Regions from separate parts of the Homo sapiens genome. Here region 1 is linked to region 2. Evidence: fine-mapped expression QTL. A gene starts in region 2. The other region holds a variant in brackets. All regions are shown on one strand. Distances are between the middles of the regions.

The links. PIP is the estimated chance that this variant, and not a neighbour inherited with it, causes the effect.
Region 1: its variant is fine-mapped to the expression of DNAI3 in nasal epithelium (TOPMed, PIP 0.94).

Annotation. Positions count from the first base shown.
Region 1 is chr1:85,129,172-85,138,169 of GRCh38, forward strand. DNAI3 (dynein axonemal intermediate chain 3) reads left to right here. Exons shown (of 23, transcript NM_145172.5): 22 at 819-941; 23 at 3,684-3,967. The coding sequence ends at 3,827. MIR4423 (microRNA 4423) reads left to right here and starts at 4,623; the gene lies at 4,623-4,702. The variant A/C (reference allele first, on the strand shown) is at 4,709.
Region 2 is chr1:85,058,745-85,067,906 of GRCh38, forward strand. DNAI3 (dynein axonemal intermediate chain 3) reads left to right here and starts at 3,583. Exons shown (of 23, transcript NM_145172.5): 1 at 3,583-3,742. RefSeq lists an enhancer at 3,218-3,718.

The DNA.
Region 1 (8,998 bases), 70 kb after region 2:
CGGCTCCCAACCCAACTTGGAGTATAGCAGGCAGCACAGCTGAACTGGCGGTATTCTGCACCCCCCACACTGTACCCACCACCCAAGTGTTTCAAACAATGTTAATAATGAGGCTTTAAAAAGATCAATGAATAGAAATATATAAATGTATATACAATGAACATTAAACATATAGATTGCAGTCTGCTGCAAGTCCAAACATCAGCCTAGTTACTGGCAGGCAAAAGGCTGTCTCTGCCCTGGTTGCCTTCCCCAAGGTCTCTGCTGACTTTCCTGCTTCTATTCTATGCCTACACTCGAAGCCCTCCAGGGACCAGGAATTCAGCTCTGCTTCCAGTCCCTCTAGGATCTACATTGATACTCTCATCTGGGTTTTCTAAGTTTGATTGATGATATGAAACTTCCCCCAGATTTAGAAGGAAGAAGGAAGAAATGGGGAAAAAGCAACCCCTGAATATTTCTACTACAAAATTGCACATTTTTGCAGCTCTCTCCTTCCAACCCTACTTTGGAAACCTCCAAGTCACAGAGCCCTAAATGTTAGCACAGTAGCCCCTGAATTGTACCAGCTCCTCTGGTAGTGGGCCTGTGAATACAATTTCCAAATTATATTCACCTAAAAGATTTAAAGTATCACAAAATAGATAATCTACATAATGATTAGGTAGATGATCATTAGATAATGATCAAGTAGATTAGGGAGGTAGATTAGGTAGGTCGTCTACCTAATTACAAGCAGCAGAAATTCTAACAGAGCCTTGTAAAGGTCATGGGGGCTTCCTGCCTGTCACCCTCTCATGGACTTCTGTTTCTAACAGATGGCAAGTGTCAACCACTATTTTGAAAGAGAAGTCAAGCATCTGGAATACGTAGAACAGCGCAAAAAAATTCGTGAGCAAGAAAAGAAAGAAATGGAACTAGAAATGGCAAAGAAAAAAGTTGTAAGTTAAATTTCAGAAATGAAAGATGTTTTCCTCGAACACCAGTGGAAATATATTTGTTTGGCTTAATCCACAGTTTCCATAGAAAAGTTATACTTTTTCACATTCTTCTCTTGTTCTCATGAGAGTCAAGAGGGCATTCCTTTGATTTCCTAGCTCACTGCCAGTTAGACACGTAGTGAGATTCTGTCCAATTTAAGTTTCTGAAATTTTCTATAATTTCAAAGTCCTTTAGTACAGATACCTTAATTCAAAATTTGAATGCTTTCATTATAGAATTTTAATATCTGGTGAATAATGCATTAAAGAAGGTGGTGCAAAAAGAGTTGAATATGGAATCAAGACACGTGGGCTCAAATCCCAACTCTGCCACTGACTAGCTGTGAGATTTGGAGCAAGGCTGTCACCTTTGCTGAGCTTCAGGTCTCTTATCTTGAAAATGGGAATACTAATAACTAGGATTACTGTAAGGCTGTCAGTTAAAGAAAGTGACAAATAGACTTTCAGTAAATAGTGCTATTATAATTATAATGATAGATGATAGATTAGATAGATGATAGATAGATAGATAGATAGATAGATAGATAGATAGATAGATAGATAGATAAATAGATATGAGGGGGTAGAGAGAAAGAGGTGAATTTTACTGTATATGATATGCTGAAGATATGAAACTTGAAATAGAGGAGAATTTGGTACAGGGCACATCCATCTTAAACTCTGCCAAAAAAGAACCTAAGCTCTAAAGCACCCCATGCTCCCTTTCTCAGCTTCTCCCTGTTTGATACGAATTCTGTGACTCTGCTGGTCTTCCCTTGCCCACTGGAATTTTGGGCTTCTAAATACTTTGTGAATTAGGCTTTTCTCTCTTTCTCACTTGAGATCACCTCAGTCTCAATTTCTGTTTCCCTCTTGCTCCCTCTCTCCTTTGCTCTTTTGTTACCAGCATTTCATCATTGATCTCATCTGTAGGTTCCGTATAGCCAAATACATACATCCTCAAACACAGTTACTCACATGAGGCCTTCAGTCTCAAAAGCATTAGCATGTGGCACTGGGCGCCGTGGCTCACACCTGTAATCCCAGCACTTTGAGAGGCTGAGGCAGGCAGATCACGAGGTCAGGAGTTCGAGACCAGCTTGACCCACATGGAGAAACCCTGTCTCTACTAAAAATACAAAATAAGCCGGGCATGGTGGCACATACCTGTAATCCCAGCTACTCGGGAGGCTGAGGCAGGAGAATCACTTGAACCTGGGAGGCGGAGGTTATGGTGAGCCGAGATTGTGCCATTGCACTCCATCCTGGGCAACAAGAGCGAAACTCCATCTCAAAAAAAAAAAAAAAAAAATAAAGCATTAGCATGTGGAAATATTGTAATGTGCTGCATTAGCAAATAAATTAACATTATCACTCATTGATAAATACTAATTAGTGCAATAAAAGCAGAGGATCTCATTTCAAAACATGTTTGGTGACAAAGTGTAAAAGAATGCCAATTAATTAAACTTTCATTGCATTCCACTGCTACAAACAAATTGATCTTAGTTTTGTTCTTTTGCACTTAACAAATGTTGATTTGTTGAGATTCTATTGTGGGAGAGAATCTGCCACCCTTCCCCTTCCCCAGCAATTATCCACGATTATTATGAGTGTTTAAATACCATAGCAACAGCTCCTAATTATCTACATCAGTGGGAGCGAGTAGAATTGTGGATAATCCAAAAATAATTTGCATGTGAAATACTTTTTAAACACCTGAATATTATAATAATAATATCTTAAATTGTATTATACTTTTCAATTTCCAAAACGTTCCCAACTTCTTGTAACTTTATTTCCATTTGATATGGTGCCCTCTTTTAAGTAAAGCCACCACTTCTCAAATTTTCTCTGCAACTATGAATAGATTGTGGGTATGTGAATGAATTTGAAAGGGTTCCTCTGTTACATTGAGAACATAAAAAAAGTCACTAAGGAAAAACAACTAATGTTAGTCAGAAATGTCTCCTTCTAAGCAACGGCTGATAAAGGGGGAAATGGCAACAGTAACAACCTCAGAAGATTGCAATGGAGCTTAAATGAGTTAAAATATTTACAGCACTTAGCCAATAACTGGCACATAGAAAGTGTTCACATGTTCGTCCAGCAAGGCTGGCCTGTGTGAGTGCTCACCAGGTGCCAGGTTGAGGCTGTACAGTTCAACACAGATTTCAGGAAAATCATGCACCTGTCTCTTTGCAAACATAAAATCTGGAAACAGCTCACTCCTCAATGGACAATAATAATCACTGCTCTAGTTGCATATGAAATGGGAATTTTCCTAACCAGAATTTCAGCTGGAGACTCAGCCTGGGACAGTAGTCATTGCCGTGTGATCCACAAGCTATGCCATCCATATGGACTCAGAAGAGGGGGATTTCAAAAGAATTCTGCAACCTCTAGGCTATTAGTCACCCTCCAGTCTACATAAGGGAAACAAGAGTTATAGGGAAGAAGGCCGGAAAAAGGGACTTTTTTTTGAGAGACAGTGGTTGGGGACCATGTTTCCCCCCACTCCCTCCTTTCCCAGCACATCTGACTGCCTCCTGCCCACCTGCCCTCCTGCCTTCCTGCCCTCCATCCAGCCCTTTCCAGAAAACAGCAGCCAGGTCAACTATTCACAAACAGCCCCTTCTCATCCTTTGGTATTTTTAGATATCAGTGTTTTATAGGGATGTCTTGTTTTTCTTCCCCCCCCAGAAAACATATCAGAAGTCAAAAGAACAAATGCAGGCTGAATTAAAAATGGACTATGAGAGTTATCTGGAACTGGAAAAGACTGTTCTTATCAACCTTGGCCTAATCAAAGTCACAGAGAAGGGGTCATACATGGAGGTGATGTAAAAAAGCTTCCTGAAGGGGTGTTTTGGGGACTTCTTCCCTCTATTTATTTTTATGTCAGGTGAACTGGCATGCTGAACATATATATATATAGGCTCATTTATAGACTTTTATTTCCCTGCTATTAAAACTTTTGAATTTTAGCAATGAGATCTATTTCAGTTTTTGTACCATGTATGTACCAAATTTTGTACTGAATATGAAAGTGTTCTTTTTTAATGAATGTTTTCAATAACAAAATTTGTATTTTCCTATAATAATAGAGAACTTTGGATGTCCCTTCCATCCCAATCCTTGCTGTCCACACAGAGGCCCTCATTCCAGGCAGAAGGGGAAATCAAACTGCTCCTACTTATCAGCTTGCTTTTGGCCACCTTTCCAAAAAAAGTGCTTCCCCTTGGCCACTGTACAAACTGTAGGGCCATGTGCTAAACAAAATATTAGCAAATCAAATCCAGAAATATATATATATATATATTTTAAAGAGGTTAACACATGAAGACAAAGTTGGGTTTATCCAAGGAAGATAAGGTTAATTTAAGAGTAGAAAATAAATCAGTGATTAATCAAAAGAGAGAAATTATGATGCCAAGTCGATGCAGAAAAACATTTCATAAAAGTTGACATCAATTCATGATAATAATGATACATTCTTGGCATCTACAGAAAGAATTCCTGTAATGTGATGAAGGGCGTGTAAAACAATACTACACCAAACATGGTACTTCATGGTGACAAGCAGAAAGCTTTCCCCTGAGATGTGGAACAAGACACAGCTCACACCATCAGGTGCCTGACATCATGTACTGCAGTTGCCTTTTTGTTCCCATGCTGTTTAAGCCTAGCATAGGCACCAAAAAGCAACAACAGTATGTGAAACTGAG[A/C]CACAAAAGAGCTTGGAGCCAGATTGTGAAGGCTCCTGTTTACCAAGCTAAGGAGCTGGATTAGAATTTATGGGGAATGAATGGAAGGTCTAAACAGGAAGTTGACCCAATCAGCTTTATTTTTAGGAAACAAGGAATGAACTAGAGCAGGGGAGAGTCTCATGGCAAGAAATCCTATTAGGAGGCAGGAGGAATTGTTCAGGGCAAAGGATTAGGATGCCCTGTACTAAAGCTTAATGTGAAGATAGAAATCAAAGGCTGGTTGGATGGGGAAGGGAAGACAAAGGATAATACCAAGGTTTATAAGTTAGATTGCTAGAGGAAAGAAAACTTTGTCGGATAGATTTTAGCTCTTAACCACCTGTGTGCCCTTGAACAGATGACCCAGCTCTGTGAAACAGATTCCCCTTCCATCAAGTCAGGTTGAGAGAACTTAACTTGCAGCATTTATGTAAGGGGCAAATGAGCCCCTGCAGATAAGGGGCCTGTGCCTGGCACATATTATTGTCATCATGATTGAAATATCCCAGGGCTCATCCTTACACTTGAACTTCTTTTATTCTTTCTTTTTTCTGCACTCACTTTCTAGGTGCATGCATCCACTCTCAAGGCTTTAGATACTACCTCTGTCCCTGACCTGGCCTTCTCTCTAAAATCAAGAGATGTGTATCTATTTGACCTTTTGTATCTCCACTTGGATGTTTAATAGGCATCTCAAACTTAAACATGTCCAAAATTGAGTGCTTGATGTTTCCCTTCAAAAACCATTCCTCCAGCAGTCCTCCCAGCCATGATGCTGCTTGGGGCAAAAGCCTTAAGGTCATCCTTCATCTCCTTTCTTTCACAATCCACATCCAATCTGTCAGCAAGTCCTGTTGACTACACGTTCAGTATGCATGTGAAACCTGATCGCTTCTCTTCTCCCTCACTGCTACCACCATGGTCCAAGCTGCATCATCATCAGCTTGGATTTTGCAGCAGCCTCCTGTTCTCCCTGTTTCTATGTTGTCATTTTCAGTCACTTTCAGCCACAGCCAGATGGTAGTTTTAAATGGATGCTGTCAGATGCTGTCATCCTTCTGCCCAGAATCCTTCCTCAACCTCATAGTATGATCACTCAGAGTATGTTCCCAATGCCTGTCTGTGCCCTGCAAGCCCTTGTACAGGCAGGCCTTCCACTGTCACCTGGTCCCATCCCTCCTTCCTCTCCCCTCCATCACACCCATCCCAGTCATGCTGGCCTCCTGTTCACCAAACATGCCAGGCATCTTCCTCTCCCTGGGCATCTGTGCTTGCTGTTCAGTACTTTCTCCAGAGATTTTTCTAATTTTATTTTCACGAGTTCACTCTAAAAAATGGTTTGTTTGTTTTTAAAGACAGGGCCTCACTCAGTTGCACAGGCTGGAGTGCAGTGATGCAATCATAGCTCACTGCAGCCTCAAGCTGTTGGGCTTAAGCAATCCTCTTGCCTCAGGCTCCTGAGTAGCTAGGACTACAGACACATACCACCACACCTGACTTTAAAAAAATATATTGAATGCCTTCTATGTGCCAGGGTCTACCATTTTAAACAGGATGGTCAGGGAAGGTGACACTTGAACAAGGCCTGAAAGAGGTGAGGGGTTTCACCTGTAGTCTTCTAGAAGTGTGTTCCATAACCCAGTCTCCCTCTCTTCAATGAAAAGAAGCTGGGACTACAGAGAACAGGTGTGTCATAACTGAGTGTCATAAACCATGACTGGAGGCTGAGCACATTGTTGTCTCAAATAAAAGCAGGGTGTTGTTAGCATAAAGGACTGGAGTAATGGATATTGAATAAGTGTCTGCCTTAGGGTTAGCAAATATAAAGCTTAGTATAGTGGCTAGCATACGGCAAGCAGTAAATATGTTTTGCCTGATTTACAAATACAAAATGGTTGTAACATTCTTGCTATAGAAACTAAACATGGGGCTCCTTATGGTTATGATAGCAGTTATTATTAGTTCAGTGTGATTTTTGTCTTTATTCTTTTTCTTTTTTCTTTTTTTTTTTTTTTTTTGAGATAGAGTCTCACTCTGTTGCCCAGGCTGGAGTGCAGTGGCTCGTTGTTGGCTCACTGCAACCTCTACCTCCCAGGTTCAAGTGATTCCCCTGCCTCAGCCTCCTGAGTAGCTGGTATTACAGGCATGTGCCACTATTCCCAGCTAATTTTTGTATTTTTAGCAGAGACAGGGTTTCACATGTTGGCCAGGCAGATCTTGAACTCCTGACCTCAAGTGATCCACCTGCCTCGGCTTCCCAAAGTGCTGGGATTACAGGCATGAGCTACTGCTCCCAGACCTGGTGTGGTGTTTTCATTGTGTGTTTATAACCTCAGTTTTCCTGAGTCTCATCACCTGTGGCCACCGAGAGGACACATAAGCAGCCATAGCCCAGGTTTCATGGGACCTTGGCCCACTTGCTTCTCAGGTATGCTAGCCTTCTGCAGAGTGCCCCCAAGTGTGTCCAGTGGCCACTGGGATGAAGATGGAGTCACATATGTTCAAGCCCACAACCACCAGGCACTCAGGGATCCCTTCTCTCAAAATGCTAGAGCTGCCTAATGGCCTGTAACGTGGGGGAAGGTGCTGGGACAATGCTTCTGGGTTAGTTCAAGTTCAGCGAGAAGCAAACACCAAGGCAGTAGCAGAGGTGCAAGAAGCAAGGCAGAGCCTTCAGAGCTCATGCAGGTCTGGTACCTATGGAAGAAAAGAGGAAAGGACAGAAGATGATACGATTCATCTCAGACCACTCAGCGTGGTTTAATTATTCATGATACCTCTCTTGGACACTAAGACTTTGAAACAGACAAACTCATAGTGATGTCTCTTCCTTCTCTGGGATGAGTTTTCTCTGAGGCTCTTCAACCCCTTAAGCTAAGGTCCTTTTGTTTGGCCCAGAACTTCCATTTGGCAGACAAGGCCAGGCATGCTGAATCCCAGTAAAGAACACAGCTGAGCCTCAAGCGAGGATGCTAACCACCTGTACTGAAGATGTAGGAATATCAGGTGTGAATGCAAATAGAATTAACTGGTATGCCTCCTTCCAATCCCCACAGCTCCAACCCTTTCCCCTACCACCCATTGTGAGTCGATCTGATCTTCTGACCTTAAGTCATTTGGTCTGGTCTACAGTGTAGTGAAAAGACAGGGGTCTTTAGGTCCTGGCAGACCTGAGTCCAAATCCCATCTTCATCACCTTGGGCAAACTGCACTATCCCCTAAGTCTTAGATGCCTTGTCTGTAAATGGGGATAATAATAATACCTAGCCTACCCCATACAAAGACAATGTATATAAAGCACCTGGAATATAGTTGGCGCTTAATGAATGTTGTTGCCTGTTCTTGCTTGGTCACAGGTGTATGTGCACACACAGACACACACACACACACACACCAGAGAAACGTAGTGTTTCCTCTTTGTTCTATGTAGTAATCTCTGATTTTAACTTTTTGTTGCCACTAATAATAACAGGAATGTTTCCCAGACTCAAATGCAACTTAAGCAGTGACTGTCCATGCCTGGTTTAATATTAGCCTTTGATCATCTTAATATGAGACCACAAGTGTTGGACATACTATTTAACATAAAATTTAAATAAATTTGAACAGCTTTCCTTTTTGCAGAACTGATAATGCTACTCAGAAAATTGATCATTCTAATATTTGATTAATTTCAATTAAATTTAATGATCATTCAGCTTTACAAATTGCTTTTTATCCGCCAAGAAACATGTAATTAAACCAGCATATTTTCAGGTCCTCAGATAAGCACATCGTGTGTGTGCACTTCAGATGAAAAGGCAATTAACTCCAGTTGGATGGTGGCCTAGGTGCTCTTCACGGCTTCACTAATCCAGCACTGTAAATAATTAACATCTCCCTGCACCCTTCTACCTTGGAGTGCTGCCCAGGGTCGGCGCTGCTCCACCGGGTTGCTAAGTTGCCATTGCCAGGGCAGATCTGTGCAACTGAGCAAGGTCCTCACAACGGAAATTAAATATCTCAGTGAAGGGCTGATGAACCCCTGTGTGGTCAATTTCCTCCTGCCATGGCTGATCAGCTCTCTGCGGGCACGGGCTCATGTGAAACAGCACACACTGTCAGAGCAGAACCCTGCACACCAGCAAAACCAGCCTTGGGAGCTTATTGGGAAACGATGGATTTTTAAAAGTTGTGTAATTGCTTTTAAATGCTTTCTTGTTAACAAATATGACATAAAAAGCATAGACGGTGAGTATGACAGATAATATAGGTTGTGTTTTTCTACAA
Region 2 (9,162 bases):
TGACTTCTTGACTCTTTAGATGTTCACTCAATCAATAAAACTAAAACTAATTTTTACATATCTTCAAGTTTCAGGGAAATTCAATTCAACCTCCCCTGGAAAAGCATGGACACATTCACTAGCTACCATGATGATATTTCATTTCTGACCACTCCCATGAAAGAACAGATGGTCAATCAATCATGAATTTGTAACATGAAGAAATTTCTAAACATTTCCAATTTAACTTTTAACTTTCTTGGTATTGTGACTTATGACTCATTCCATCAAATGGACATCCTCTTGGCATGTCTCTAAAGAAAAGATGACAGAAGGCCTTGGTGTCTCAGCCAGATCACAAGGTTATATAATTCTTACTTCCTTAAATCTGACCGTGAAGGATTATAATTTTTTTTAAGGAAAGCAAATTATTTGGAAAAATACAAAGAAGCTTCTGTTAGAGTTTCTTTTAGATTTACTTCCAAGAATAGTAAATCAATTACATAATTAAATATATGTTTTATTAAATACCTATGTCCAGCCGGCCATGGCGGCTCACATCTGTAATCCCAGCACTTTGGGACACCAAGGCTTGGGCCCAGAAGTTCAAGACCAGCCTGGGCAACATAGTGAGATCCCCACTCTAAACAACAATAACAAACCAAAATCTATGTTTGACATTATATCACAGTGTGATATAAAGGATATAAAGGAAATATAAAGTAATGAGACACCATCCCTGCCTTAAAGTCTAGAGGGGGAGACATCTATCTAAACAAGCTATTGCAACACAATGTAATACTTGCTATAATGGAAAAATAGAGGAAAGAGTGTCTAATTCTACCGAGTGCCTGTATGGCTGGACAGAGAAGGTGACATTTGAGTTGGGTCTTGAAAAATAAATAGTCATTTACCAAGTAATGAGGATGAAGAAAGGCATTACAGATGGAGGCAGAGGTAGAAGTGGTGGCACCTGGATGAGCAGACACACAGTTGTAACCCAGCACAGCACAGGGGACCAGTCAGGAGCTGTGTAACCAGAGCTCTGGCTCTCAACCTGAGACCCACACACTCCTGGACCTGCACAGCAGTATGTCAGGGGCTGTGCAAAACCACAGGATGAGCATGTCACAGTTGCCTAAGGTTTCTTTGTGTTTATTCAGTTTTCTGTCAATTTTAGTTAATAGTGGCTTTAGACATTTTTTTAAAAATTGAAACAAACACGAATCCATTGCAAAGCCAAATGCAAAAACTTCATAAATTCTTTATATGAAACAAATATGTCTCAGTTGCAGAAGTCTATTTCATGTTATAAACCTTCTTTCCATCAACCTACTACTCACTCCTGGCCCCTGTGATTTCCTGCTCCTTGGCTGTTAAGGGTCTTCAGTTAAGAAGCACTGGACTAAAATGTGGGTTGGGCTGGGGACAGAGGCAGGAAATGAGGTTAGAAAAATAACTAATTACCTTCCAGATTTATTTCCAGTGTCTTTCAGAACCCTGTTTATACAGGGTTTCATATGCCAGATTGAGCATATTTAAGCAGGGTGACGTCAGGATTCAAACTATGGAAAATTATGTGGCAACTTGGCAAATAAATTAGAGGGAAAGAGATAGAACAAGTCAAAAGACTATTGCTACCGTCTAGGTGAGAGATAAGGCATATCTGAAATAAGGCAGAGGCAGAGGATGGCTAAGAGAAAATGGATTATTTGAGAGACAATTAAGAAAGAAAAATGACAGAACTTAAATGATATGTTGACTGTGGGCAGTAGAAGAGGAGTCAAGGATGACTTTCAGATTTCGTTTTGCAACTGATGGACAATGATACTATTACCTAGGGTAGAAAATAAAGAAGGAAAAAAAGTTTCTGAAAGATAATGAGTTGACTTTGGCTCTGCTAAGTTGTGGTGCTATGGTCATTCATTCATTCACTACATTTAATCTTTATTTAGCATCTATTAAACAACATGAACTGAACTACACAGGTAGTTGGAAATGTCCAGTAGCTAGAGGAAATTCAGGTATGGAATTTAAGAGATATGTTAGGCTGAGAATGTAGAAATGGAAGTCCAGTGTGTTTAGTGGTGATGGCTGAAGCTAAGGGGAATATATGATGCCGACGCCACCAGGAGAGTGCGAAGAGTGACAAAAGAAGACTCAAGACTGAGCCCAGGGGAAAACGAATCTTCCACTTCCTGGGAGTGGACAAGCTGGAAAAAAGTTGTCAGAATGTTTAGATAATACCTCTTTTTTAGTTTTTTTCCTTCATAATTTGTATTGTAAAATTCATTTGAATTTTGTGAACACAAATTCTTCAGAAATTTGAAAGAATCTATATAATCTTTCTGCACATAACGTAAAAATCTTCATTCAGGATCCTTAAAGTCTCATATGTTATAAATGATTAGCCTCTTCTCAATTAAAGATTTTATTTAAATTGGGTGTAAAAATTAATTTAGACCAATTACAGAAGTCAATTACATTGCTTTATTAAATTCTGCCAGTTTACAAATTAGGAAGTTATTATTATTATTATTTTTTAAGACGGACCCTCGCTCTGTCGCCCAGGCTGGAGTGCAGTGGTGCGATCTTGGCTCCCAGGTTCAAGCGATTCTCCTGCCTCAGCCTTCTGAGTCGCTGGGACTTACAGGTGCACGCCACCACGCCTGGCTAATTTTTTTGTATTTTTAGTAGAGACGGGGTTTCACCGTGTTAGCCAGGATAGTCTCGATCTCCTGACCTCGTGATCTGCCTTCCTCAGCCTCCCAAAGTGCTGGGATTACAGGCATGAGCCACCGCAGCAGCCCCCTGAACTCTCATATGTTATAAATGATCAGCCTTTTCTCAATTAAAGATTTTATTTAAATTAGGTGTGAAAATTTATTTACACCAATTACAGCAGTCAATTACATTACTTTATTAAATTCTGCCACTTTACAAATTAGACAGTTATAATTATTTTTTAAGGGAAAGGAGGAGAACAGTGTTCAGAGAGTTGAGCGTCACTGTATGAATCCCACCGGACTCCTAATCACAGATAAAATGAACCTTGGGTTACTCACGGATTCAAGTTTCTTCCCCGGAGACTCATATTTACAGCTTGAGTCAAATTCTAAACAAAAGTTATTCTGGCAAGAAGGAAATGTAACCCATTAGGGTTCTGGGGCGCCCACGACAACCAGTGGGGCGCAGCTTCCTCTCCACTCCCTAGGAGGGCCCAGCTCGCTGCAGGGGGTGGGCAGGAAAGCTGCCCGAAAGGATTCTGAGCGGGCAGCCTCCTTAACATTTTCTCTCCTGGTTCCTAGGGTCCACACCCCAGAAAGATTCTTCTCTGGCTGAGATTGCGGTGGGTGTGAGGCATGGACCGAGCCTGTTAGACCTGGGGTCAGGCCGGGCCACTGTCATTAATATACTTAAGACACAAAACTCTTTCCTTGGTAGTGGAAAGCTGCTGGCCTCACCCGGTTCGCGTTGAGTGACGTCACATAGTGGCAACCAATCACAAGTCTGCTTTGAAAGATACTGTTAGGGAGCGGACACTGTATTGGTAGAGATGCTCTGTCAGTCTCGCAGAGGACTCGCCTCTTTTCTCTTAGCGACAGATGCGTCCTGGCAACAGTCGGCAGAGTTGCTGCGGTTTGTGCCCTTGCGATTTCTTTTTCTGAGAGAGGAGAGTCAAACTCCCACCTCCAGCTCTCGAAGGAGCTTTTCCTGAGGGCACTGCAAAGAGGCTCCTTTTCTTTCAGATCAGCAGTATCAGGTAAGAGAAGCTCTGAATGGGAAAGGCGGCTTGGAAAACAAGTATTTTACTCACTCTTTCAAGGGTATTTGAACACTCGCTGTGTCAGCAATGTGCTAGGCTAGTGGCAGTGAAGACTACAAAAAACACAAGTCTTTCCCTGCTTTCAAAGAGCTTCCAGCCTCGTGAGGGAAACAAAAATAGCAACGAGAGAGCAGTTAACGACACTCTAAGAACTTTAAGGGCATGTACTGTCTTGTTCCCATGTTATATATACCCAGTGACTATCATATTGCCTAGTACATAGTAGGAACTCAATAAACCATGAATGAGTCAGTTAATGAATGAATGAATGAATGAATGAATGAATGAATGCCAAAACAGCATGATTCTGATTATCCGTCTAGGGGCGGGGGTCAAACAATAAAAGATTAATGTGGGCTGAAATAGATTACTTCAGGACTGTTTAGAAAGGGCTAGAGTAGATAAACAGTGAGGAAGATGAACAGGGAACACAAACTCTTTGAAAGTAAGGACATTGTCTTATTCCCCTAGTGACTAGTTTACCCAGTACCTAATTGCTGCGCAATACTTTCTCCTTCTTCTTGTGTATGGTGAATGCTAAATGAATTCACAGCAATCTTTTAGGAAGCTCAGAGTTTGAAGCCCTCTGCCTTTGCAGAGGCCTGACATAAGTAATTACACATAGTATGACTGGAAAGTGTCAGGGAGAACAAGATTGTTTCAGCCTGAGTGAGGAAGTCAGGGAGGCTTTCGGCTTTGGGGGAAAAGTTCATAATTGCCTTGAATGATGAGAAAGATTGAAGCAAGCAGAGAGATGCCTGCATGGTGTGGACCAGGAGCAGCAGGAGGGGTGGGAGGGAAGGGGATTCTCCAGAGAGGGAGGTGGGAAAGTCCTCGACTGTTTGGGAATGAATGGAAACCGTGTGAGGCTGGAATAGAACTGGAAAGGTTGACGCAGTGAGGCACACTGTGAAAGTACTGAAGGCCATACTTATGTGAGTTCAGACTCTATTTTGTTTTGCAAAATCTGGTGTATAGACCACCAGTGCAAGACTGTCTCACAATGCTTTTAAAAATGCGGAGTCCCAGGCTCAACCCAGACCAGCAAAATCAAAGGAGGTCCAGGAAATTTGCATTTCAAATGAGCTCCATTTCTACAATCTGGAAGAGAATGCTACTGTGAATGATAGGGACCCATAAAAAGTCATTATACAGGGAAGAGACTTGATAAGAGATGCATTTTTGGAGAGCTCTGAGGTTGGCCTCTTGAGTAGTTGTTCTGGTTAGAACAGAGGCAGAGAGGCCAGTTAAGTGTCCATGATCTAGGGCAGAGGATTCAGGGAGGAGAATCTGTGGATTTTTTTAATTACATATTTATTTTCACTAACCACCAATTGAAATGTATTCAATTGGTAACAAACCACAGTAGTACTCACAGGCCTGTGACTTTGTTAGTAACTCTTTTCATATTACATTAAAGAGATTGTAAATATATTATTTATACTCATCATTACCTCACAATTAAGGTAGTTATTAGAACCACAGCTAGATTTTGTTATTTAACGTGTTAATAAAGTACAAATTATTTTATCATAATTTAAAAAATATTTTAATAACTATATTTCCATATAATCTGTCTTCTTTGTAATCCCATGTTTTTATTTGATGCATGGGCTTCACCAGGCTGCCAAAGGTTCATGGCACAAAACAGGGTTGGAGCTCCAGTTTTGGAGGACATGTTAAAGACCTGAACCAGAGGAGGCTGTGGGAGAGAAGGGCTTGGAATTCAGAAGATATTTGGAAGGGAGAAGTAATAGGATAGCATCTACTCAAATAAGTGAATATCCAATCTTGGAAAGAAGTGGAAATAGGTATGGAAGGAAGGAAACAAGAGTATAGACTAATAGACATTGTAGGAATAGTTGTCTCTAGGGGTGGATGTTGTATACTTGCCAAAATATGGCTGAAGGACCCAGGAGAATCTTGAAGTTTAATCAGGGTCTTAGTGAAGATTTACTGAGAATCAATAGTTCTTGCAGACGCATTTACCAGAGGCCCAAGATGTTAGTCTTGGGTTTTATTCTAAATCAATGTTTGTTTGTTTGTTTGTTTGTTTGTTTTAAAGATATCCCTGGAGAGGTACCTCACGTCTATAATTCCAGCATTTTGGGAGGCCGAGGCAGGAGGATTGCTTGAGGCCAGGAGTTCTAGACCAGCCTGGGCAACGAAGCCAGACCTCACCTCTTAAAAATAAAATAAAAAGCTGGGTGCAGTGACTCACGCCTGTAATCCCAGCACTTTGGGAGGCCGAGGCAGGCAGATCACCTGAGGTCAGGAGTTCAAGACCAGCCTGGCCAACATGGCAAAACCCCATCTCTACTAAAAAATAAAAAATTAGCTGGGCATGTTGGTGGACACCTGTAATCCCAGCTACTTGGGAGGCTGAGGCAGGAGAATCGCTTGAACCCGGGAGGCGGAGGTTGCAATGAGCTGAGATTACGCCATTGCACTCCAGCCTGGGTGACAGAGCAAGACTCTGTCTCAATTTAAATAAATAAATAAATGTAGAAAGATGGAAACAAGCATTATGAGCTTATAAATTATTTGGGAAGAGGAAAGAGGATGATGACCACCTAGATGAGGTCAGCTAATTGAAGAAGACCTGGGAAGATAAGACTTTCGTAAGGAAGAACCCAGTTAAAGAGAAGGTGCCAGTGCTACAAGTCCTTTCATAATCAAGATCTCTTGGCTGGGAATAAGCCACACATACACACAGGCAACAAATGAGAGCATGTAAACAGGTGTGTGCTATCAACCTAGATAGCAAGCAGAGAGGGGGACTCTCTAAAATAAAATGTTTATTTGAGAATAGGCATTAACAATGGGAAGATGCATGCGGTAGTAAACTATATGTATATTCAGGGAGATAAAAGGACACAAACGTTTTTAAAGGAAAAATGAGGAGGATTATGTCATTGTCTTCAGATAGTTATCCTTGGCTACAGAATCAGTGACAAGGGTGGCACCAGTCTGAGGTTGGACAGGCAGTTCCTGGGCAGATATCCTTGCAGAAGTATTTGTGTGTGTGTGTGTAGAGTGGCAATGGCCTTTATGCAAGTTTGTGATTCTGTATAGTCTTTTGTGATAGTTCTTGTTATCAGGCATTTGTGACATATACTCCCTTCATGGCCTTCCCTAGCTGTGTTTGTCTGAGTTTTTAACACAAGTGGCTCCATGCTGATTCTGACAACTTTCACAATGCATTGCATGAATAAAGTGAAGAGAGGAGATTAATAGCTGTTTAAATCACTGTATTATGACAATTTAATTTATGTTACTTATGCCTTCATCTATAGTAGTTCACCTCCTGAATAATAGAAGCATCATAAAAGGATATAGTCATGGGCAAGTTGGAGAGTTAGTTTGGAAGCAGATCGTAGACAGCTGTGAATGCAGGGTTCCTCGTAATCAAGTGGTGCACCATCACAGGTTTTGATCTGTTATGCAGGGGACTTACCCAATACACACTTTTGTCAACCTCTAATGTCTCTTGTTGTTAACGTAGAATCTAGAAAATGTGACCTTTGTGCATTGATGGCAAAAGGTGTTCTGAAATGGGTAAATTAATTTACAAAGAAAATAAGTAGTTTAAATATCAAGAATATTTTTAATAAAAATGCTTAAACATTTCTAAGTGTTACCTTCCAAAATTTCTATTTTGAAATACACTCAGCTCTAGTGGTTTGAAAACCAGTCAAAACACAAGCCACTGGGTTAGGCACAACATTGATTTTAGGAGTAGACGAATTATCTCTTCTGCTACTCTTTTTTTTTTTTTTTTTTTTTTTTTTGAGATGGAGTCTTGCTCTGTTGCCCAGGCTGGAGTGCAGTGGCATGACCTCGGCTCACTGCAAGCTCCGTCTGCCTCCTGAGTTCACACCATTCTCCTGTCTCAGCCTCCCGAGTAGCTGAGACTACAGGCGCCTGCCACCACGCCTGGATAATTTTTTTGTATTTTTAATAGAGACGGGGGTTTCACTGTGTTAGCCAGGATGGTCTTGATCTCCTGACCTCATGATCTGCCCGCCTCGGCCTCCCAAAGTTTTGGGATTACAGGCGTGAGCCACTGCACCTGGCCTCTTCTGCGACTCTTAATAATTACAAATTGATTTCAGCTGGGAACAGAAAAAATGTTATGCATATTTCAAAGTAAACTTAGACTAAAGTAGGATTGGATATTGAAAATTTTTTCATAAGCTTTTAATATGCAACTTAATAGAAAAAAGTTTGTTAAATATAACACATTTATGAAATATTCAATTAATTTTATGAAAAAAACTTCAGTAAGCCCTGCTATAATTTGAAAGTAATATCTTTGTTGGGGATTTGTTTTTAAAAAGAAAGATCTACATAAAAAATAAACCTTGAATAAATGTGTTTATTGAAATTATAAAAAGTGTATTATTCATTTGGTTTCGATACCCCCAATTAAAAGTTATTTATTTTCTAGACATAATGTTGGTAGGATTTTCATTATTTACAATTACTAAAATAAACTGCAAAATTTTGCCTGAAACTGAAATACAATATAAGGTGGCTACTCCCAAAGTAATCATTTTCCTTTCAGTTTAGACTATATTCACCGGGCTCTCTTCAGCTTATAAATGTTTCTATCGATGGTGCCTAGAAATGTAGATATTATGCTTTTTAGTGAAGAAGAATTAAGACCCCTAAAAGCCTTTAGAACAACCTGGTCACTAGTACCTGGTCACTAGTCACTCTGCCCTTAGTCACTAGTCAGTAATTTAGACAGAAGTCAATTAACATTTGTGAAAGTAGTAAATGAGCTGTTCAGGTAAGGCAGCTTGCATTAATGCACATTCCAATTTTGGTGCCTAATTTATTGCCAAAAATTTGACTTTGTTTTTCCCTGAAAACTGGAAACTCAAATTATCTACAGAGTATTTAATAGCAGCGTTTGAAAAGAACAGGACACTTGTTTACTTTGATTGTTTGGGGGATGATTGTAAACTGATACCTGTATTCAAGTTTAATTCTACGGCAGCACTTCTTAATTCCTGGAACCTGTGGATATGTTACCATATATGGCAAAGAAGTAAAGTCACAGATGAAATTAAGATCAGCGGAACTTAACATAGGGAGATTATCCTGGATTATCTAGGTAGGCCCAGTGTAGTCACAAGGGTCCTTAAAAGTGAAAGACAAAGAAGAGGTTAGAGTATGCTATGTGAGACTTAACTCTCCCTTCTGACTTTGAAGTTGGAGGTTGGGGGCCACAAACCAAGAAGTGCTGGTGGGCTCTAGAGATTGGAAAAGGCAAGAAAGCAGATTCTCTCTTAGAGGCTCTGGAAAGAAAGGAATGCAGCCCCACTGACTCTGGTTTAAGTCCAGTGAGA